Linked DNA regions of Homo sapiens. The protein of the gene in region 1 interacts with the protein of each later gene in a pairwise test. Each region holds a gene or a part of one and is shown in the gene's direction. Other genes may lie near its edges.

Region 1 (8,970 bases):
GCAAGGGAGGAAGGGGTAAGGGAGCCAGGGTTCTAGTAGCTTCTAGAAATTGACTGAAATAGAGAAGCAGTAAGGGCCTGAGTACTGATAACATTGATGATTCATTCAGGTGTTAACTCAGAATCGATAAAGTGAGATCCCCAGAACATTTGCTCTGTATCATTCTGCAGTGGATGCTAGAATGAGGTAGAGCAATAGTGCTCTACCTCAGCACTGTTGGCATTTTGGACTGGAAAATTCCTTGTTGTGGTGAGAGCCACCTTTTTGCACTGTAGAATGTTTGCAACATTTGTGATCTCTATCTACAAGATGCCATTACCGTCTTCCAAGTCATGATATCCAAAAATGTCTGTAATAGCAAAAAGGTGGAAGCAAGTAAAATATCCATCAGCTGATGAATGGATAAGCAAAACATCATCTAGCCATATAGTAACTCTTATTCAGCCATAAAAAAATGAGGTACTGGCTGGGTGCGGTGGCTCATGCCTGCAATCCCAGCACTTTGGGAGGCTGAGGTGGGCAGATCACTTGAGGTCAGGAGTTCAAGACCAGCCTGGCCAACATGGTGAGACCCTGTCTCTACTGAAAATACAAAAATTAGCTGGGCATGGTGGTGTGGACGCCTGTAATCCCAGCTACTCTGGAGGGGGAGGCAGGAGAATCACTTGAACCCCGGGGTGGAGGTAGCAGTGAACCGAGATTGTGCCACTGTACTCCGGTCTGGGCAACAGAGCCAGACTCTGTCTCTCAAAAAAAAAAAAAAAAGGTACTGATACATGCCACAACATGGATGAACCTTGAAAACATGTAAAGTTTAAGAAGCCAGACAACAAAGGCCATATATTGCATTTTTCTACTTACATGAAATATCCAGAGTGGCCAAATGAATGAAGACAGGATACAGAGCAGTGGTTGTCAGGGGGTTAGAGGAGAGGGGACTTGAGAGTGACTGCTTAATCAGTATGGGGTTTCCTTTTGGGCTGATGAAAATATTCCGGAATTAGATAGTGGTAATGATTACACAACGTTGTGAGTGTACTAAATGCCGCTGAATTGTACACTTCAACATGGTTAAAATTGTGTATGTTATGTGTGTTTTAAAATAAAAAAGAAAATACCTCCAGACATTGCCAAATGTTCTCTACAGGGCAAGATCACCCCCTACTGAAAACCACTGACCTATCTCAAGAAAGGAGAAGGCTTATGAGGAAGCCTATAAAATTGTTGTCTGAAAGCCTGATTGATGCAAGGGATAAATTTGTAGAAAGCAGTTGTACTTGAGTTCTTAAACTGGCTTAAAGAATCCAGGTGAGCCCTTGAGGAGGGCTTAAAACATAACATAAATAATCCCTTAGCTCAAAGACAGTTTAAAAATGTGAGGCTTGGCTGGAAGAGAGGAAGTTGACAAACACTTTCAATATGCCTAATCTCCACCAATATTTGGAAATCAGCTCTAAGATAAGACCATTGCTTGGTGATTCTGTCTGCTGGGAACTAACAAAGCAACTGTTCAATAAACCATGTGATCTGGGCATGAAATACAAAATGCCCAAGTCATGACAGTTTTCAGTGTTCCTACAGTAGACTAGGCAGTGTGAATGAGGAGAAAGAAGCTGTAACACTGACATTACCAGCTCTTCTCAAAAAGGAATCCGAACTGGAGCCAGTGGGGAAGGATCTTCCAGAGAACAAGAAAGAAGAACTGTAAAGAAAGAGTTGGAAAATGCTGCCTGTAAGAAGATTTGACACAACCTTGAACAGTGTGACTAAGTCAAAGATGTGGACTCTGCCGTTAAATCCTATCAATCAAGCCGTGATATGCTTTGAAAAAATCAGCTACAATAAACCCTAAGAGCTTTGTGAGAAGGCCATTGAAGTTGGAAGAAAAAACAGACTGGTCTAAAGATAGAGAGTAAAAGCTTTTGCCCAAGTTGGCATCTCTTACTTCAAAGAGGAGAAATACGAGAATACTATTCATTTCTATAATAAATCTTTGGAAGAGCACTGAACCCCAGATATACACAAGAATCGTCAATAGTTAGGAATTAATCTGGAAAGAGCAAAATCAGTTGGCATATATAAAATCTGACCTGATTTTGGAGGAGAAGAGTAAAGGCATTGAGTGGTTTCAGAAATGGAACTATCTCCAAGCCATGCCAGCTTTATACAGAAGCCATCAAATGGCATCCTCCACAGGATGCCAAATTCTACAGCAGTTATATCCAAAGTGTACAGCCAGAGCTGGAGGAGTAGAAGAAATATCTAGCTAGATCCACCCTTAACACAGATTATACTTAGAAAGCAGCAGCCTTAGAATCTGAAGGATGACACAAAAGCCATGAATGTCTAGCAGAAGGCCCTAGACCTGTAATTCTACCGTAAAGAAGTAGCAGATGGTTATTGGTGCCCAGTTCAATTGATATGACAACGCTAAGGATGTGAAGCAAAAAACCATAGCTATATGACATATCCTAAAACAAATGCAGAAGGGCTCCCAGGGACTCAGTGAATATTTAAAAGGGTCCTGTGGAAGCTTAGAAAATCAAGAACTTCATGAATATGGGTCTGATCACACTTTGGTGATGGTTTCTTGAGCTCTTTTTCCTTCCTCATCACTTCTGGAAAGAGGAGCTGGGACTGCAATGAGCAGAATGGAGCAAAAGTCTGGAGAGAAGAGGAAAAGCTGAATTGTATATATGTTTACACATTCATGCATGGAAAATTCAGAGATGGACACTTGCGTTCTTTGTACAGCTACAGTTTTATGGCCCTCTTAGCACAAGCATGGTCTCGTCACTCCTGACAAATTGGGCTATGTGTCCTTCCCAAAACCCGCAGTCACTGGCTTAACTGTTCTCCCCATGATTCGTGATTTTAAATTTTGGACAATGCACATGTTGGGGAGGGAAGATATTTATCCCAACTGTTCAGTCTACATTGATAATTTGTACCTTTCCCCCTTCTGCATAAAAGTCCCACAGAAAATGGGGGTGAGTATAGAGGAAAAACACGAAGGCTCTGAGTAGATTCCTGAAGAAGAGGTGGGCTTTGAACAGATTGAGAGAATCAGCCATCAAAAAACCTAGAGGACATTTACTTGCCCAGGAATTTATGAACAATCAAATTTAACTTGGGGTGTAAGCATATTAAAGGAGAATTGTATGCAAGCATGCAAAGTGTCTAGTGCTACATGTTATATAACTATGTAGCACTAGACACTGTGACCCAACTTCCAGGAAGCTGCTTGAACTTAGGAAACTATTTCTCAGCCTCCGGGATGAATAAAACTAAGTGCATAACCACTGAAGGATGATTCTGAAAGACATTTTAAAATTCTGCATTGAGGCCAGGCACAGTGGCTCACATTTGTAATCCCAGCACTTTGGGAAGCCGAAGTGGGTGGATCTCTTGAGGTCAAGAGATCACCAAGCCTGGCCAACATGGTGAAACCCCATCTCTACCAAAAAATACAAAAATTAGCTGGTCATGGTGTGTACCTGTAATCTCAGCTACTCAGGAGGCTAAGGCATGAAAATCTCTTGAACCCGGGAGGCAGAGATTGCATAAGCCAAGATTGTGCCACTGTACTCCATCCTGGGCAACACAATGAGACCCTATCTGGAAAAAAAAAAAAATCTCAGATTGAAACAAAACAAACATCCAGGCCGGGCATGGTGGCTCACACCTGTAATCCCAGTACTTTGGGAGGCCAAGGTGGGTGGATTACTTGAGGTTAGGAGTTCAAGACCAGCCTGGCCAACATGGTGAAACCCTATCTCTACTAAAAATAACAAAAATTATCTGGGCGAGATGGCATGCACCTGTAATCCCAGCTACTCGGGAGGGTGAGGCATGAGAATTGCTTGAACCCAGGAGGTGTAGGTTGCAGTGAGCTGAAATAGCACCATTGCACTCCAGCCTGGGGGAACAGAGTGACACTCTGTCTCAAAAAAAAAAAAAAGAAAAGAAAAACATCCACCTGGGATTACAGGTGTGAGCCACCGTGCCCAACCAAAAACATCAATAAATATTGATTGATATTTTGAAAATCTTAATTTTCAAGTCCTTAATTCACACACTATTTGTTTTTTTACTATAAAGTTTAATTTTTTAAAAACCATAATGTCGGCCGGGCGCAGTGGCTCACGCCTGTAATCCCAGCACTTTGGGAGGCTGAGGCAGCCAAATCATGAGATTAGGAGTTCGAGACCAGCCTGGCCAACATGGTGAAACACCGTCTCCACTGAAAATACAAAAATGAGCAAGGTGTGGTGGCACACACCTGTAATCCCAGCTACTCAGGATGCCGAGGCAGGAGAATTGCTTGAACCCGGGAGGCAGAGTTTGCAGTGAGTCAAGCCGAGATTGTGCCACTGCATTGCAGCCTGGGCGACAGAACAAGACTCTGTCTCAAAAAAAAACAAAAAAAAAAACCATAATGTTGCCATGGCTATTTTAGTGGGGGGTTTTTTGTTTGTTTTGTTTTTTTTAGTATTTTTGTTGGGCTCAGTGGCTCACACCTGTAATCCCAACACTTTGGGAGGCCAAGGTGGGCAGAACACTTGAGCTCAGGAGTTCGAGACCAGCCTGGGGAACATGGCAAAACCCCCATCTCTACAAAATACAAAAATTAGCCAGGTGCGGTGGTGTGTGCCTATAGTCCCAGCTACTTCAGAGGCTAAAATGGAAGGATCACTTGAGCCCAGGAGGCTGAGGCTGCAACGAGCCATGAGCATGCCACTGCACTCCAGCCTGGATGACAGAGCAAGATCCTATCTCAAAAAAAAAAAAAAAGGTATTTTCAAATAAGCAGAAAAGTTAATGATTATCACTGTTCTAGTTATCCATTTCTGTGTAACAAATCATCTTAAACTTAGTGGCTTAAAACAAACAAGCCTATGTTTTGCTCAAGCATTCTGTGGGTTAGGTATTTGCAGTTGCCGTGAAGGGAAAAGCTTGTTTCTGTTCTTCAATGTCTGGGGCCTAAGCTAGGAAGTCTCAAAGGCAAAGGATAACTCAACAGCTGGATCTGCAGTTATCTGAAGGTTTGCTCACTCACATGTCACTTGGTACTAGCTGTTGTCTGGGACCTCCATTAGGGTTGTTGGCAGGTGCACTTACACATGGCCTCACTGTGTGGCTACTTGGCCTTCCTTGTGTCATGGTGCCATTCTTCCAAATATGAGCAACCTGGGGAAAGAAAGGCAGAAGCTGTACTGTTATGACCTAGCCTCAGAAGTCACTTTGCATCATTTCTATAGGAGTCACCAGCCCTCTGAATTTCAGGGGAAAGAAACAGATCCTGTCTCTTAATGAAGAAGGTCAAAGATACATTTCATAAGAAGAGCATGTGGGATTAGAGATTGCAGCCATTCTGGAATGCCAAAACCATTAAGCTAGATACATTTTTAGTCTAGTTTTCAAATATTCAACCAAATCTTAATTTGTTACAACCGTAGAAGCCAGGAAGGTTTATTTATAATACAGATGCTCTCCATTTCCTATATGTGCCTGTAAACACTTTTATAAATTGTTCTTATAAATAAGTATATACCATAAGGTTAAACAAATAATAATTGTACCAAGTAAAATTGATACTTAAAAAGAAACTAGAGTAGCGTTCTTAAAGTAAATAGACATTCCTGTTTATCTGCATTATAGTAAGTAGGGTGTGTGTGTGTGTGTGTCTTGTTTTGTTTTTAAAGCAAGTCTGTCAGTAATACACTGCCTGGCAGCAATTCTTGGTTGCCTTTTCTTAGTTCGTTGTAAGTTTTTTGAGTAGCCTTGTATCGAGGTTCTTTTGATGCTAAGCAGCTACTAGCCTACTAAGAATATTTCTATTTCCTTCCCTCTCTTTGTGCCTTAACAGATCCGAGCAGTTGGCAGACTAAAAAGAGAGCGGTCTATGAGTGAAAATGCTGTTCGCCAAAATGGACAGCTGGTCAGAAATGATTCTCTGTGAGTAGAAGCACTAGCATTTTATCTCGTTTGTAAGTTTTCTCAGGATATTTTCTGTACCCATGTTTTTCTAAATAATTACTTCATGTAGTTTTTAAAATTTGTTTTACATCAATTTTATATTTTTGTAATACTTTTTGTAATCTTAAAATCTGGCCATTTTGTTGGTCCTGAGAATTTTTCAGTCACCTTATCCTTTCCTGTGTAGTATGATTTGCTAATTAAGTTGTCATAAGATGGTGAACTGGTCCTTTCCAGCTTTGCTTCTAATGAGCTATGTTAAACAGTGTAGCAAGACAAATAGAATTTTTTTCTTTCCAAAAGTATTTTTTAGCTTTCTCCCTTACGATTCATTGAATTTTTTGGTCCTTTTCATTTTCAGAACATACAAGTATGTTGTTTAAAAGACTATTTGTTTAAACCTTTCTTTTTCATTTGGTTGTATTATCAAATTCTGATCTTAAAGCTACCACAAGATTATTAATGTCAGTGCTTTTTTACTTTTTTATTAAAATTAATGGATTTTTACAAACAAAATGTTCTTCGAAAACTGGTCAGAATTTTAATCAGAAAGTCATTGTCAGTAGTGGCTTTTTAAATATAAATTAATATTTCTTCCTCATTAATGTTTTGGCCAATTTTCGTAAACTCATGAACCACATGTGATGGCAAGTATCATGTAAGCGTCTGTGGAAACTGAAAGAATCAGGAGATGATACATCTCTTCTGAGAGCTAGCAAATCTAAATAGAAGCAAAGCATTTAATTTTATTTACAAAATAACTAGAGGACAATACAGTGATTTATATTACAGCATATTAATCTCTAGTTTGGACCTCTCTAAAGAGTATAGGGGTACAGAAGGGGTTTTGTTGGGGTTAGGGTCATTGATATTAAAGGTAGAGAGAGGTTTTTTTTTTTTCAAATCCTTGCTTTGAAAGAACAAGGAAGTTCTAATTTCTATATAAATTATTTGCTTGCCTTACTGAAATTCCATTCTCTTGTGTTAGGTGAAAGGAGAACTAAAACTGCTCTGATTTCTTATAGAATATTGAAATATCTCCTAAGGTAGTTAAAATTATTCTGAAAGGCTGTGTAGGAAGAGAGCAGGTTAAAATGAATATATATCTCCTTCAGGGAATGCTTATGCAAGATTCAACCATTAGTAATATAAAATTTTTTGATTGTGTTTTCCCTAAAGGTATCTGGTTAGCAGTGATGTCAGCAGGCCCATGAAATCCATTTTTTCTAGACTATTTCCAAATGTATTACACAAACGGTAAAGAGGCTGTATCATTTATGGCTAAGGTGGCTTCTTGATCTGCTTTAGAGTGATTAAACATACACTCAAGAGCTTTAATTATTTTCTTTTTGTAACATTATCCTAAGGCAACAAAGATTTCTAGTAAGCTTTTCCACTTTATAAAGATGTGGCTTACTATTTAGGTTCTTAGCTACTTTGACATTTTATATTAATAAAAACAAGATTATTGTAATATAGCACCACTCTTATTTTTTCTCCCGAAGTATATATTATTTATAGCTGCATTCAGCTGAAGAGAAAGGAAACCCCTTTATTATGTACGAAAACCAGTCCAGTGAAGTATAATTTAGAGTAGATGATATAGATGTTTTTGTATTTACTCAATAACATAAGTTCCTCATAACAGAAAAGATTTACAGTGTTAACTAATACTTGATTTTCTTTTTTTTTCTTTAAGTTGCTTTAATGACATTTTCTAAATTTTTAGTAAAACTGAAAATCTCATTTTTGATAGTAAAAGTAATGAATCTTTATACATTTTCACAGTGAAACACTTAACATTGCTTAACCATATTTTTCATTATGGTTGTAAAGTATATTACCATGTTATGTATGTATTTTGTTAATAATGTAACTTTGCCCTTTCTTTTCCTACTGTTGTTAATTTTATAATTTACAATTTATCTTTAAGAATCTACATCTTACTAACTTTAGAATTTTGTATAATGAACATATTATTCAGTGTTGTTAACGTAGTGAGGAAAAAACAATTGATATAATACCTCTATTAAAATAATTATTAAACTCTTACTATCTTTACCTACTTTAGTGTTTTCTTTGTAACATGAAATTGTTGTGCGTCATAGTGCATGAAACTTTGCCTGTCTCCACTTTATTTTATTCCATGGCTTTAAGAATAAAAGTGCGAACGGGTATGAGAGCAGGAGCACTAGCCTTTGTTTTCTTAATTACTTCGAAGAGGCAATAAGATTGTGGTCAGCTATTAGCGCAAAAGTGAATTCTAAACAGTAAAATCAGATCTAGCTTTTTCTTTGTGTTATAAAAGCTGAATATGTAAAAGAAGCATAATTATTATTTAAGGTGGCACAGATCAGATTCTGCCCCAAGAAATAAAATTTCAAGGTTCCAGGCACCGATTTCTGCACCGGAGTACACGTAAGATTTTATCTGCTCTGCTTTTGACAAGTAGTTGTTTTGATTTTGAAGGATTATGTTAATACTAATCTATTCACCAGGTAATTGACGTATGCTATCCTAATTATCTTCCTGTTTGGCTTTTTAGTACCTCTGTTTCAGGATTTCTCAAACTGTCATTATATGCTTTATTAAGGAAAAAAAAAAACTAGACCATCTAAGGAAGTTGTATATGATTTTGCATGTGTTGGTGAAAGGAACCTGAAATATAATATGCACATAAGGACCAAGCATCCTTTTTTGTTTATTTTGCTTTGGTTGGTATAATAGTTCTCAACAGATTCAACGTCACCTGGTGCAGTGATCCCAATTTTTTTTTTTTTAATTTCAGCGCACTGTCTTTTCTTCTTCTATCTTGTTTCTGAAGGAGAATGGAGCATAAGTGTGGTTTGTCATTTATTTTATAATCCCATAGATGAAAACGATGCTTGGAAGCACTTTTTTGCTATTATTAAACCCACTCTTTCCATGTGACAAAATAAGGTATGAGAATGACTCACTCATGGAGCACAACGTTTTGGTATATAATACAGG
Region 2 (8,812 bases), on another chromosome or scaffold:
GATGGACATTTAGGTTTTTTCCTGATGTTTTGCTATTGTAAACAAAGCTGCAATAAACACCTTGTACATGTCTCTTTATGCAAGACTGTGTCTAGAACAGTGGTTCCCCAAGAAGATGTTGCTGCCCGTTTTAGGGTGTTTTGGAATTTGTGAAGATGTATTTTGTTATTCTTTGATTGGAGGCACTACTGGGGTTTACAGATCAGGACTGCGGATACTGGATGTTCTGTAATGTATGGGACAGTCCTCACAACGAAGAATTGTCCTGCATCCTGTGCAAATTTTGAGTATCCCACAGGATACTCATTTATAATTATCTGAGTGTAGAGCCTAACTCCGGTTTTTGTATAAACATAATGTATTTTTTGGCACAGTTTAATATAGTAAAATTTCCAGGAATGCAACTCTAATGTAAATCAGAGGAAAATTATACTTATTTGTGGTTTGGAACTTTAACAAGAGTTGTTCATCACTCTAGCAAATCACATAACTGAAGGCAGCACAGCTCGTGGTATTTGAGTTGCCAGAACAACACACCTGCATAGTCTGCATTTGAAGCTTTTGCATTCATGGTGATTCTAAGTTTAGGTGCAAGCATCTGACTACTGTACTTCATTATGTATTCTAGTGTAGTCAGCCTGAACATTTGTATATTTAAACATATGCTATTTCATTACGAATTACTTTCCATTTAAAATCAACTTCTGTATATCATATAGAGATCTAGTTTTATTCTTTTCCTATTGGAGAATCATTTGTCCCAACACTATCTATGAAGTTCTTTACCCATTGAATCATAAAGCCAACTCTGTGCTGTAGGAAGTTCTCACAAATGCATGGATCTGTTTCTGGGTTCTTGATTTTATACCACTGGGCCATGTGTCTTTGTGCCACTATCACACTGTTTTAATTACTTTGGTTTTTCAATGTGTCTTGCGGCAGTTGGTAACAAGAAAGGCAAGTTGCCATCCTAGTTCTCAAAATTGTTTTGGCTATTCTTGGGTTTTTGCTCTTCCATATGAATTTAGGATCCGTTTTCAAGTTCCACAAAAAATTGTTTTTAGACTTTGGTTAGGATTGCATTGAATTTATAGGTTAAGGAAAATTGAGATTTTTTTAATTGAACCATCCCATCCGGGAACACAGGTTATTTCTCTGTTCAGGTCTGCTTTATTTCTTTATTCAGGTCCTCTCTCTCTCTTTTTTTTTTTTTTGTCTTTGATAAAGTTTTATAATTTTAGCTATACAAATCTTACTCATCTTTTATATTCATATTTATGCAGATATATATATATATATACACACATATCCACATCTTTTTATTATGAAAGTTTAAAATATATTCAGAAATATAGAAAATAGGCTAGCAAACATCTACACACTCATCACCCAGCTTCAACAACTAGCTCATGACCAGTCTTGTTTCATGTCAGCCCCTTCACCTCCTCTCACTGAGGTAATAGAAAGCTCCTAGAAACCCTTTTCTGTTATCTGTAATGTGCTACGTGTGTATGCATATATCTTTATCATAAATAATCTTTTAACAATATAATAATATCATCTTTTTAATAGTGTTTTTTCACTGAAAATACAAACAGTAATTTCATAATATTATCAAATATCTGAATATTCTTCAGATTTCCCCAATCATTTCATAAAAGGTTTTTGCAATGCTTCGTTCGAATCAGGACCAAATAAGGGTCCATATACTACACATGGCTGATACATCTCTTAATATTCTTTCTGTAAACATTTTAGTGAAGGGTAATACACATACAGAAAAGTATATAAATCCTAAGTGCATGGTTAGATACAACATCACCGTATGAACAAACCCAGGTGAACAAAACCCAGATCAAGAAACAGAATTTTATCAGCATCTCCCTGAACCTCCTACAGTCACTATGTTTCACAAGCCAACCATACGCCTGACCTCCAGCCCCTAAAATTAGTTTGACCTGTTTTGAACATTATATAAATGGACTCATATACTATGAACTCTTTAGCCTCTAGCTTTTTTCATTTAATATTTGTGAAATTCATCCACATTGTTGAGTATAGTTGTAGTGTGTTCTTTCTCATTGCTTTATACTATTCTCATTGCTTTATACTACATAATGCTTTATATACTGTATGAATGAATAGATTGTAGAGTACTATATCCACTCTATTGGCAGATATTTGGATTGTTTAAGGTTTTAGCTATTTCAGGTAGGGCTGCAATGTCTTTTTTTTGAATTTAGGTGTGCGTTTCTGTTGGGAATACACCTAAGAATAGAAGAGCTGGATGTAGGATGCATTTATATTTAGCTTTATTAGATACTGCCAATAGTCTCCAAAGCAGTGGTTAACAAATTATGGCCCTTGCCAGCCGTATATGAGGGTTCCAGTTACTCCACATCTTTGTCAACACTTGCTGTTGTCTGTTGTTTTCATGTTAGCCATTCTGGTGGGTATATGAAGGCACTGAATTTGGTTTTAATTTGCAATTTCCGGATGACTAATGAAGTTGAGCACCTTTTTACATATTTATTCTCATTCAGGTATCCTCTTTCTCAAGTGTTTATTCTTTTTTTATCTGCTTGATCTATCAGTTTCTGAGACATATATTAAAATCTCCTGCTAAATTAGTGGTTTTATACATTTATTGTAGTACTTCTGTCAGTTTTGGCTTTATATATTTGGAGGTTTTGTTGTTAGGTTCACATTTGTTTCAGGTTGTATCTTTTTACTGAATGGTTCCTTTTGTCACTGTTCTTAATATTTTTCAGAGCTTTACATCTGTTTTGCGTGGTACTAATATTGCTTCATAGCTTATATTTTATTTTGTTTCACTTGGTTTTTTTTCAACTGTGGCTTATAAAAAAACAAAAACAAAAACAAAAAAACAGAATTTCCTGTCTTAACCATTTTTAAGAGTGCAGATCAGCAGTGTTAAGTATATTCACAGTGTTGTGAAACAGAGCTCCAAGATGCTTTCATCTTGCAAAACTGAAACTCTATACTCATTCACCATCTCCCTATTCCCTCCTTCCCTGGTTTTTGTCTTGTTAATATTTGCTTTGCATGTCTTTCTCAATCTCTTTATTTTCAGCCTCTCATTATACTTTCTGTAGAGCTTTTGTACACAGCTATTTTTAAAAAGAAAAATCTAAGAGAATTTCTTTTAGTAGTCAAATATAATGTTTCCATGTACTATGATTACTGTTGTATTTGGGTTTATTTTTACAATCTTATTTTGTATTTTCCATTTTCCTTGCGTATTCTTTGTTCTGCCACCCACCTCACACCCACTGACCCTTGCCCCACTTTCTGTTTTCTTTATTTTTTTTTCACTTTACTAGTATAGAAGCTATTTTTTCTATTTCTGTTGCTTGCTGTTTACCTGTATGTTTTTTTAACTTGTGTACTTAGCTTAAAAAACATATACCTCCTCCAAAACAAAATCACTGTAGAATGCTTTAACTTTGAACTATCCTTTTCCATCTACCATATAACTGTTGAGTAATATTTAGTCCTTTCTGATTTTTAACCCCTCAAAAATTGTCATTATTACAGAAATCTTTACTGTCAATATTTCTTAATAATTTTCTCACCATGCTTCCTGTATCTCATACCTCCTTTCTTGGTTCATTTTCCTTCTTGCTGAAGTATGTCTCTGAGTAGCCCTTTCACTGAGGATCCTTGAGAGGTGTACTACATTTCACCCTTTGTATGTCTGAAAACATCTTTGTTTTACACTTACTCTTGAGGGAGTCTTGCATGCCAGCCTGTGGGTTTAGTTTTGTCTCTGCTGGGATCCAATGGGTTCTCACTTTTAGTCTAGTTTTCATGTTAATCTTTCTATTTGGGATTCCCATATCACATCGGTAGTATTGAATCTCACACATGGATATGATGTGAGGTGGGGATTCAGATTTCTCTTGGGCTGTTGTTTTTTGACCTGTGGCCTGAAGCACTCAGCCAGCTTCCTTCCAACTAAGTCAGTAGCAAATTATTTAGACCCTATTTCAAAAACTGGTCAATCCTGTGAGGGCCCAGCTTTCTGCATTGTTCTCATTGCTAGTTCTTTGCCATCGTGGGCTTGAGACCTTATCTGCCCTGAAGAGAATCACCCTGAAGGTCTGTATCAGGCACCAGGACCCTCGTAGACTTTTAGGCTCAGCTCAGGCCTTGAGTTACATTTTTTTATAGCACTTAATGATTTTTCTTTATTGCTTTCGAGCTCTGCTGTGTACTAAATTCTTCTTGTTCTATTTTATTGAACATTTATGTGTTTGCTGTTGTATGAGGCACTTCCCTTGTTAACTTCCATCCAGCATATTGACCAGAGGTTACAGTCATCTTTCTAAAACTCCATATGATCCTTTCACTCCCTCACCTGATGTTTGTGGACTTGTTAGCACTGTGTCATTTATTCCTCCCACAGATACTTGTTGTGCATAATCTCTGTGCTAAGAACTGGGGTTACCACAGTGAGAAAGATATCAGGTCTCTGCCTTCGTGGAGTTTACTATTCTAGTTGGACAGACAGAAAATAAACTTGTAAACAAATAAATGAAAATATTAACTAGTTTTGTGAAAAATGCTCTGAAGGAAATAGAGTGATGGAGAGTCAGTGTTTGAGGGGTTACTTTAGAGAAGACACTCGGGGAAGACCTCACTGAAGAGTGACATTTAAGCAGAAATCAGAAGGCTGAGGAAAGCCAGTCCTACAAATAGTAGCAGGAGTGCTTGGGGTTGAGGGCTAGTTCCAGGCAGTGGAAACAGCAAGTACAAAGACCCAGAGATGGGGAAACCCCGGGCGTGTTAGAGTGACCGAGATGGCGCCCATGTGGCCCTAATGAGGGCAGACTGCTCCCCAGAGAAGTTAGGCATGCAGGTGGGCCCCAGGTCCCATCTCCCCTCACTCTGTCATCTTTTCACTCTGATTCTTTCCTAAATGTGCCTGTGCAGAGTATTTCCTTTGTAAAGCCCCTCTCACTATTGCAGTTCCCACTGCACTTCGCTTTTACCATTAATCAGAATGTAATATGGACACTTGTTTTCAGGACAATGTTCTCCAATAGACCTTGAGCTTCTGTCAGAAGATATCTTATTCACCTTTGGCATCCCCAGCTTGTAGCGCAGTGCTTTACATGGTGGGAACATCATAAATGTTGATTCAATAAACGTATTTTTTTTACCAGTTCATGCTTAGACCCTCCTTTCCAATAACTTTATAACTTCTCATAGCTAATATTTTCGTGGTATTTAAACCATAAGGGTAAAGAAAACCAGCAACCTAGAGGAATGTGTTTGCTTAAGACTTGTCTCCAATGCTGAAAAGGAAAACCAGGAGAGGTAGTGTGGTGTGCTGTTCCTCTGCTGTGAGTTGAATGGTGGTCCCCAAAAATATATGTCCGCATCCTCACCCCTGGAATCTGTGACCATGACCTTGTTTGACAAAAGGGTCTTTGCAGATTTAATTAAGTTAAGCATCTCAAGATAATACTAGATTATTTGTACAGACCCTAAATCCAATGACAAGTACCGTTATAAGAGACAGAAAATGTGAAGACAGACACAGGAGAATGCCATGGGAAGATGGAGGCAGAGACTGGAGTTGTGAGTTAAAAGCCAGTGAATGGTGCCTGGAGCTACCAGAAGATGGAAGAGGCAGGGAAAGATTCTCCCCTAGAGCACTGATCCCCAATCTTTTTGGTACCAGGGACTGGTTTCATGGAAGACAGTTTTTCCACAGGGGGATGCAGGGGGGTGGTTTCCGGATGAAACTGTTCCACCTCAGATCTTCAGGCATTAGATTCTCATAAGGAGCCTGCAACCTAGATGCTTCGCACGTGCAGTCCACACTAGGGTTCGTGCTCCTGTGAGAACCTAATGCCGCTGCCACTGATAGGACAGGAGGCGAAGCTCAGGTGGTAAGGCTGGCTTGCCTGCTGCTCACCTCCTCCTGTGCGGCCCAGTTCCTAAAAGGCCATGGACCAGTACCAGTCCATGGCCCAGGGGTTGGGGACCCCTGCCCTAGAGCCTTTGGAGGGAGCACAGCCCTGCTGACACCTTTATTTTGGATTGCTGGCCTGTGAGAAAATAAATTTCTATTTTGAGCTGCTAATTAGGAAACTAATAGATACCCCATCGCGCTTATATCTCACTTACCCATCCTGTAACATGGCTATAGTAATACCTTTCTCAGAAGCTTCGCTCCGGGATTCAATGAGATATGTTTGTACGGCACTTAGCACACAGTGAATGTTCAAAAATAGTGATGGCTGTTCCTCTTCTTTAAGGACTGGGAGTTTTCATCCTCTTGAATAAGAACTCGACAACAGAGTGGGAACTTTCTGTCTTGTGATCCATTGCCTGGTGAGTCACAGCTCACACCATGGATTTAACCTGAGAGCTTCAACTTCTGCTTTGGCCCTGGAGTTCCCATGCCCTGGTGTCTTCTACCAGTTCTTAGGTAGGGTTTTATATTCAGAGAGGGTTCAGCTTTCTCCCGTGGGCTGGGGGAAGAGGTCAAAGTAGAACTCAGGTACCAAATTTGAAAGGAAACACTCAGAAAAAACTTCTGAGCGCAGAGCGGAAAACACCCTCTCAGTCCCCACCAAAGAGAAAGGCTTTGGGTTCTAAATTTCCAGTTTCCATTAAGGGACTCTGGGACTGGACATTTCTGAAAATTAATGACCTGTACTGAGTAATCCTCCTAACACACTGATCATCAAAAAATAACCTGTAATGAGTTTAGGCTTTCTGTATTTGTCTGAATGCTTTCACGGGAGTGTGTTGCACTGGAGCACAGAGGACACTCGATCGTGCGGCGCGCAGGGCGGGGGGCCGCCGCTGCCTCCCCGCGGGATGGCTGGCACTGTGCTCGGAGTCGGTGCGGGCGTGTTCATCTTAGCCCTGCTCTGGGTGGCAGTGCTGCTGCTGTGTGTGCTGCTGTCCAGAGCCTCCGGGGCGGCGAGGTAAGGCATTCTGTCCAACTGGGAGTCCTAGGTAAAGCAATTAGAGGCAAAATCGCTGATGCTCACTAAACATTTAGAATTTAAGAGATCAGTTTTGTAATTACTGGCAGTTTGAATGAGTTGCATTTTAACCTCTTTTTATAAACACTAACTGTGTTATTTATGCTCTGGAGCAGAGATGGGAGGAGAAGGAAGTAGTGTTCTTGAGTTCTAACTGTGGCAAGAAACTCTGCTTTCACTGCTTATTGAGTTTCTTGAGGCTGTATGTGTATGTGTTTATGAATTGTTCAGATTTATGGCAGAGGCTTGGTCCAGTACCCGAGGCTCTAGCCCTGGACCCAGGAAAACGAAAGCAACATTTGATGAGTTGGGCCTGCTTTCTATATCAGGCATTGCCTTCAGAACAGGGTTAGGCCATAAACCGACTCTGAAAACACTAGAGTTGCACTCTGGCAAGACAGTGTTAGTATGAAGCAGAGAGTTGTAGAATTTTCTAAAGTATTCTGTTCTAAAAACAACAGAAGTGGAGGTGGAGAGGGGATGCTTTGGTTTTTCTTGATTATGACTTTGGGCAGAAGTAAAAATAAAAACTACACATTTCCATTCTTAGGAATTGGGAATTACCAAGAATAAATGGGAATGCACCCAGCTGGTACCTGTCTAGGAAGAAGGACTTTGGGATGAAGAGGTTGTTGACAGCAGGCCTCTGGACATTGTTAAGGGACTGAAACATAGAATATTGGCTCCAAGGAAGAGACTGTCCAGACCTAACTGATCAAAGAAGAAATTATAGACAGTGCTTTTAATAATTTGTCTTTTTAACCCCAGGTTCTCTGTCATTTTTTTATTCTTCGGTGCTGTGATCATCACATCAGTTCTGTTGCTTTTCCCGCGAGCTGGTGAATTCCCAGCCCCAGAAGTGGAAGTTAAGGTAAAGCTGTTGCTTTCGTTTTGCCTCCTGAGCTGTGATTCTTATTTCTCTTGGTCTGCACATCCGTCCTGCCCTTGATGTTCCCTGACATCGGGTTGCCTGAGATGTCAGAATTGTAAAGTTCAACCAATGACGGGGAAAGTTCAGAGGGAGTTTTAAGTTCCCCTGCCCCTTCACTCAGGAAAAGAATCTTACTCTGAATTCCATCTACAACCCCACCAGGCAGTTATTTGCCTGATTTGGTCTCATCTTCAGTTTGCATCAAGTTGAAAACAGCCTGTTGGAAAGCCACCTCGTACCATGGGGACAGAAAAAAAAGAAAATGAAATAGGGATAGTCACAGGCCTGCACCCGAGATGAAGTGTTCCCATTCCTGGCAGCCTGGGCTCCTAACTGCAGATCCTGGGCTGAAATTGATGTGGTGCCCTGAGGGTGCTGAGGACATGCTTCTCCAACTGCATGTGCTAGAATTTTCCCAACAGTCTTCTGGGAGTTCTTTGGTCCTCATACCTGGGACCATACCTGCCAGCACCCATGTCTTTAAATGGATTTTTATCATCTCTCTCAGAATCCTTCTCTGGAGTTCTTTACCATGGCTTTACCATGCATGGCTGGTCTCAGACCCATGGGATCTTGACAATGACATTGACCTTTTCTGTCCCATTACTCCTTCTCACAGCTTTCCTCTCAACCTTCATTTTGATGTTTTAAGTGATAGTCATGAAAATAGCTAACATTCTTTAAGGGATTTCCGTGTGCCAGGTCCTGTGCCAAACACTTTGTTTGCACTGTCTCATTTAAACCTCAGGACAGCCCTAAGTAGTATGACATAGGTACCATTATTATCCCCATTTTATAGGTAAGAACACTGAGTCTGTCAGAGGTTAAGGTAACTTGCCCAAGGTCACATAGC
Region 3 (5,746 bases), on another chromosome or scaffold:
TCAGCCTCCAAAGTGCTGGGATTACAGGTGTGAGCCACCACAGCTGGCTCCAGTATGTTCTATATTTGTAGAACACCAGGGCTCTTAGTCTCTTTTAGTTCCCCCATTTTTGGCAGAAAGTTTAGAACCGATCTCCCCATTTCTACAGCCCTGGGTCCCGGGCTGGGGATAGTGAGAGGAGCCACACAGATCCCTGTCTGTAGGACCTCCAAATCTGAGTGGGGAATCTGGACCCCTGAGAGCAGAGAGGTCATGGGTGGAGAGAGGAGACGCTGGGACAGGGACAGGTAAAGGAAGGGGAGGTTGTTGAGGGGGACATGGTGAAGGCTGGGGCTCTGGCATCCTGGACTCAGGAGAAGTGGATTCAACCTCACTTCTGGTCTCCTCCCTATTTATTTATGCCGCCCATTGCCACCACTACCACCACCACATGAGCTTTTCTTTTCAACTCTTTTTTTTTTTTTTTTGAGATGGAGTCCCGCTCTGTCGCCCAGGCTGAAGTGCAGTGGCGCAATCTTGGCTCACTGCAACATCTGCCTCCCATTTTCAAGTGATTCTCCTGCCTCAGCCTCCCGAGTAGCTGGGATTACAGGCACCTGCCACCACGCCTGGCTAATTTTTGTACTTTTAGTAGAGATGGGGTTTCACTATGTTGGCCAGGCTGGTCTCAAACTCCTGACCTCAGGTGATCCACCCACCTCGGCCTACCAAAGTGCTGGGATTACAGTGTGAGCCACTGCACCGGGCCTACATGAGCTTTTCTTTGGGGCAGCTGGGGGATGAGTGAGAGGCTTCCCACCTTTATGGTCCAGGCCTGAAGGGCTGTGGAGAAACTTGTGCTAAGGTGAAAGCTGTTCCCCTACACCTACGCCTGCTGAAATTCAAGGAAAATCAGTGAAGATGGTTCAGTCATCTTCTAGGATCCCAGTCGCAGACCCTGCTTCCAGCCCTTTCCATAGGGCCCTCTCATATTAGAGTTGGGACAGTGGGGTGGGAAGGCATGTGTCCTTTTTCTGGAAAGTGCAATTACAGCAGAAGGGGTTTGGGCTGGGTTCCAGGAAGCGCCTCTAGTCCTCCCAGTGGTGGCGAGTGGGCATGTTGCTGGCTTCACCCCTTCCTTCTGGAGTGAGAGTTGCTGGTCCTCACCCTCCCTGCCTGTTCTTCTTCCTGACAGATGTTTGGCTGTGGCTCCGTGGCCCAGGTTGTGCTCAGCCGGGGCACCCACGGTGGTTTCCTCACCATCAACCTGGCCTTTGGCTTTGCTGTCACTCTGGGCATCCTCATCGCTGGCCAGGTCTCTGGTAAGGCCTTAACCCTGCCCCCAGCCCTTGGCCCTCAATAGCATTCCCACTAGGTGTCCTGGCATTCCTAAGGGCAGGTCACAGCTGTGGCCTCTGCTTTGGCCCCTTGGGAAAGGAGGGTGGAGAAGAAACTTGACACTTAGAACTTTCGACTCTCACCTTGGAATCAGAGATTATCAGCTGACCTGTTACATAGACCAACCGCCATCCTGTGCAAGAAACCCCTCTCTGCACCCCTTCTCAGGGGACCCTAGCCTGCCGACTGTGGCAGGCTGCAGCTAATAGGTCCCTTGTCCCCTCTGCCCAGGGGCCCACCTGAACCCTGCCGTGACCTTTGCCATGTGCTTCCTGGCTCGTGAGCCCTGGATCAAGCTGCCCATCTACACCCTGGCACAGACGCTGGGAGCCTTCTTGGGTGCTGGAATAGTTTTTGGGCTGTATTATGGTAAGCATTCCCCACCCTGTCCTCCTCCACTACCCCCGTCCCTCTGTTCAGGACCTGCTGGCACCAGGCCTTTTGATGACAGACGGCTAGGACCTGCCCAGGCCCCGGGCTCATGACTCACTCATTCACGCACAGGGTCAAGGTAGGGGGCACGAAGGGAAAGAAACAAGTTGGGCAATAACAGAGTCTCAGGCCCTCCACCCCACCCCACGCCACCCCCTCTGCCTGCTGCAATACAGCAGTATTGCTACTTACCCATAACTCATGGGAGGGTGGGGAGGGCACACCTGAGAGGGAAGTCTGGGCTCAGGCCTCTCCCCCGACTCACTGTGTGTCTAATCTGTCACCAGATGCAATCTGGCACTTCGCCGACAACCAGCTTTTTGTTTCGGGCCCCAATGGCACAGCCGGCATCTTTGCTACCTACCCCTCTGGACACTTGGATATGATCAATGGCTTCTTTGACCAGGTATGGGCTGGGGACGTGTGAGGGGAACGCAGGGAGGGGACCGAGTTGCCTTGGTAGCTCATGGGCTGGTTGGGGGACAGGACTCCTCGACTGTAGCAGGGTTTCTCCAATCTGTGGGGTAACCCGCATCAGAACATGGTGGCAAGTACTTACAAAACATGCGGCTCTCCAGCGGGTTCTTGTCACGCAGACATTCTAGCACCATTGCTTTCAGGAGAAGAGCATGGGCGGGCGCTGACAAGAGTTTAAGAGCTAGAGGGAAGACGGGGGATGGAAGGAGGGGTCAGAGAAAGGGAGGGAGCTGCAGCTCACCCTGTTCTCCCCACTCCCCAGTTCATAGGCACAGCCTCCCTTATCGTGTGTGTGCTGGCCATTGTTGACCCCTACAACAACCCCGTCCCCCGAGGCCTGGAGGCCTTCACCGTGGGCCTGGTGGTCCTGGTCATTGGCACCTCCATGGGCTTCAACTCCGGCTATGCCGTCAACCCTGCCCGGGACTTTGGCCCCCGCCTTTTTACAGCCCTTGCGGGCTGGGGCTCTGCAGTCTTCACGTGAGTACAGCCCCCACCCAGCTCACCCCAGCCTGCCTCTCCTCTGCCCTGCCCCCCATGTCCCTGACTATGAGTGTCTGTCCCCCCAGGACCGGCCAGCATTGGTGGTGGGTGCCCATCGTGTCCCCACTCCTGGGCTCCATTGCGGGTGTCTTCGTGTACCAGCTGATGATCGGCTGCCACCTGGAGCAGCCCCCACCCTCCAACGAGGAAGAGAATGTGAAGCTGGCCCATGTGAAGCACAAGGAGCAGATCTGAGTGGGCAGGGGCCATCTCCCCACTCCGCTGCCCTGGCCTTGAGCATCCACTGACTGTCCAAGGGCCACTCCCAAGAAGCCCCCTTCACGATCCACCCTTTCAGGCTAAGGAGCTCCCTATCTACCCTCACCCCACGAGACAGCCCCTTCAGGATTTCCACTGGACCTTGCCCAAATAGCACCTTAGGCCACTGCCCCTAAGCTGGGGTGGAACCGGAATTTGGGTCAATACATCCTTTTGTCTCCCAAGGGAAGAGAATGGGCAGCAGGTATGTGTGTGTGTGCATGTGTGTGCATGTGTGTGCATGTGTGTGCAGGGGTGTGTGTGTGTGGGGGGGGTTCCCAGATATTCAGGGCAAGGGACCAGTCGGAAGGGATTCTGGCTATTGGGGGAGCCCAGAGACAGGGGAAGGCAGCCTGTCCATCTGTGCATAAGGAGAGGAAAGTTCCAGGGTGTGTATGTTTCAGGGGCTTCACATGGAGGAGCTGCAGATAGATATGTGTTTCTGTGTATGTGTATGTCTGCCTTTTTTTCTAAGTGGGGGCTTCTACAGGCTTTTGGGAAGTAGGGTGGATGTGGGTAGGGCTGGGAGGAGGGGGCCACAGCTTAGGTTTGGAGCTCTGGATGTACATACATAAGTAGGAGCAGTGGGACGTGTTTCTGTCATAATGCAGGCATGAAGGGTGGAGTGAAGTCAGGTCATAAGTTTCATGTTTGCTTTTGTTTTGTTTTGTTTTTAATGTATGTAGCAGATGTTACAGTCTTAGGGATCCGGGATGGGAGACCCCACTTTAGAAAGGGTCGTCACTCCTTTAATCCTCTACTCAACAATGTACTCTTTTACTTTTATATTAAAAAAAATAAAATAAATATGTGCCTAAAACCTCCAGTTGTGCAAATATCTTTCTGCTTGCTCTGCTGCTTTTCTGGGGCCAGTTAAGGAGCTTCCGCATGCCCACACTGACCCAGGGTGCCCGGCTGAGTGTCTGATCTGGTCAGGTTACCCTGGGGGTCATACAGAGAGGTTAGAGAGCCTCTTCACCAAGGCTCTCAGTTTGAACTCAGTGGTCCCAAACTTTCCCCCAAGTTTCCGTCCTCATGGGTACCCCCAGCATAATGAATGGAATCTTCTTCCCAATCCCTGTACCCACACATCACCCCAGAAAGGCTTGAGCCCTATGCAGGGAAGATCTTGCTGCAGAGCTACCCAATGGGGAGAACTGCTGCCCAGGAGGTGGTGAGTTCCCTGTTCCTGGAGGAGACCCATCAGACTGGGAACCTGTATTGTCCTCCACAACCTGCAGCTATTCAGGCTCCATAACCTCCACCCAGACCTTGGCCACAGCCCCCCTGGCAGCCTCCCTGCCTCCAGGCCTGCCCCAGTCAGTCCACAAAGCAACCAGAGGGATCTCTTCAAAACCTCTGCTGAAAGTGCCCATCTGGAGACCATCCACAATGCTCCATCTGGCGTTCAGGACCTCCAGGTAGGGTCAGGAGCCTACCCCTCCTCTCACATGGCTCCATCCACCTCAGCCTACTTTATGTGTTTCTGTGTTTTTGTGTCTTCAGACTTTGCTCCAAAGTCCCAACTCACATCTTTGCTCATTAAAGTCCTCATGATCTGCTTTAACGCCTCTTCCTCCGGGAAGCCATCCCTGCTCTGCCTCACTCTTCCAGCAACTTCTAGTCAGCTGTCTTAAGTGCCAAGACCCGCAGTTGCGTTCACGCTCATCTCCCCTTCTGCTTCATTTCTTCAGTCATTTCTTCACTTCTACAGAGGCACCTCTGTGCCCAGTAAGGCAGGGGGTTGGAAGACTGACTCTGGCGCTCTGACTTGCCCAGAAAAGCAACGGGCTCGGCACACCTGAGAACAGGAAGCTTTTCTCATTTGCTTCTTCCTTACCATACCCTCCTCAAGTTTCATCAAGGGAAACTTCATGCAATACAAGGGAAGGCATCCCCTACCCAATCCCTCCTCTGAGCGAACCCCATGGGAGCCAGAGGATCCCTGGGTGTGGCAGGCGAATTGTGGTTTTTAGAAGCTAAGCCAGCTTTTGCTCTCCAGCCTTCACAGATGAGATCATGGTCCAGAGAGGGCGGGTGGCAAACACAGGGTCACACAGCCAAGAATCTGCCTACGGAGGTGAGGGCAGGAGAAGGCAATACCATTTTAGGTTTCTATCCCTTCTTTGTCCCCAGCTCCCAAGAGGCGTGTCTGGAATGCTGGAGGGACCTGAGCCAGAGGGAGTGTCCCCTTCCCAGGCCCTGGGGGGAGGAAGGGCAAACCTTGGGAGGGGAATACGGCTGCAGAGGGTCATTCCAGCCACACCAGTCCCACCTGGGCTGCCCTCACCTTGCTGTCCTCCCCAGCATGCCCCATGTCCTTCTGTCACCCATTTCTCTCAAATCCTGCTGCTGACCCTGACCAGTCAGCCTAGGGGGTGTTGGCAGCACTTTTGGTGCTGCCACCTGGCCCAGCAAGGATTCTCTAGCTGGGTGACCTTGGGGTAGTCATGTTCTTTTCCTGAACCTCCCTTATCTGTGAATTGGGAGATATTGAGAGGAGGAAATAATGGAAGATGATTCATGGAAAGGACTTAACACAGTGATTAGCAGATGGTAAATCCTCAATAAATGTCACCTCATGATTTTTCCTGCAGAACCAGAGATGGGGGTGGGGAGGCAGTGGAGGGAGGATGCTAAAGGCTGTTTTTTTTAAAGG

Evidence for each region.
Region 2: the proteins of MFF (region 1) and TMEM218 interact in binary tests that used the Homo sapiens proteins (3 or more experiments, as listed by UniProt).
Region 3: the proteins of MFF (region 1) and AQP3 interact in binary tests that used the Homo sapiens proteins (3 or more experiments, as listed by UniProt).

Annotation. Positions count from the first base shown.
Region 1 is NC_000002.12:227,334,423-227,343,392, forward strand, and holds part of MFF (mitochondrial fission factor), read left to right. Parts: intron 1-5,869; coding exon 5,870-5,958; intron 5,959-8,322; coding exon of another isoform or gene 8,323-8,397; intron 8,398-8,970. UniProt on the Homo sapiens protein: Plays a role in mitochondrial and peroxisomal fission. Promotes the recruitment and association of the fission mediator dynamin-related protein 1 (DNM1L) to the mitochondrial surface.
Region 2 is NC_000011.10:125,100,288-125,109,099, reverse strand, and holds part of TMEM218 (transmembrane protein 218), read left to right. Parts: intron 1-6,290; 5' UTR 6,291-6,366; exon of another isoform or gene 6,367-6,434; coding exon of another isoform or gene 6,435-6,463; intron 6,464-6,748; exon of another isoform or gene 6,749-6,782; coding exon of another isoform or gene 6,783-6,858; coding exon 6,859-6,968; intron 6,969-7,578; coding exon of another isoform or gene 7,579-7,656; intron 7,657-7,796; coding exon 7,797-7,899; intron 7,900-8,812. UniProt on the Homo sapiens protein: May be involved in ciliary biogenesis or function.
Region 3 is NC_000009.12:33,439,321-33,445,066, reverse strand, and holds the end of AQP3 (aquaporin-3), read left to right. Parts: intron 1-1,174; coding exon 1,175-1,301; intron 1,302-1,608; coding exon 1,609-1,746; coding exon of another isoform or gene 1,747-1,862; exon of another isoform or gene 1,863-1,888; intron 1,889-2,096; coding exon 2,097-2,215; intron 2,216-2,548; coding exon 2,549-2,766; intron 2,767-2,855; coding exon 2,856-3,024; coding exon of another isoform or gene 3,025-3,077; 3' UTR 3,078-3,907; downstream 3,908-5,746. UniProt on the Homo sapiens protein: Aquaglyceroporins form homotetrameric transmembrane channels, with each monomer independently mediating glycerol and water transport across the plasma membrane along their osmotic gradient. Could also be permeable to urea.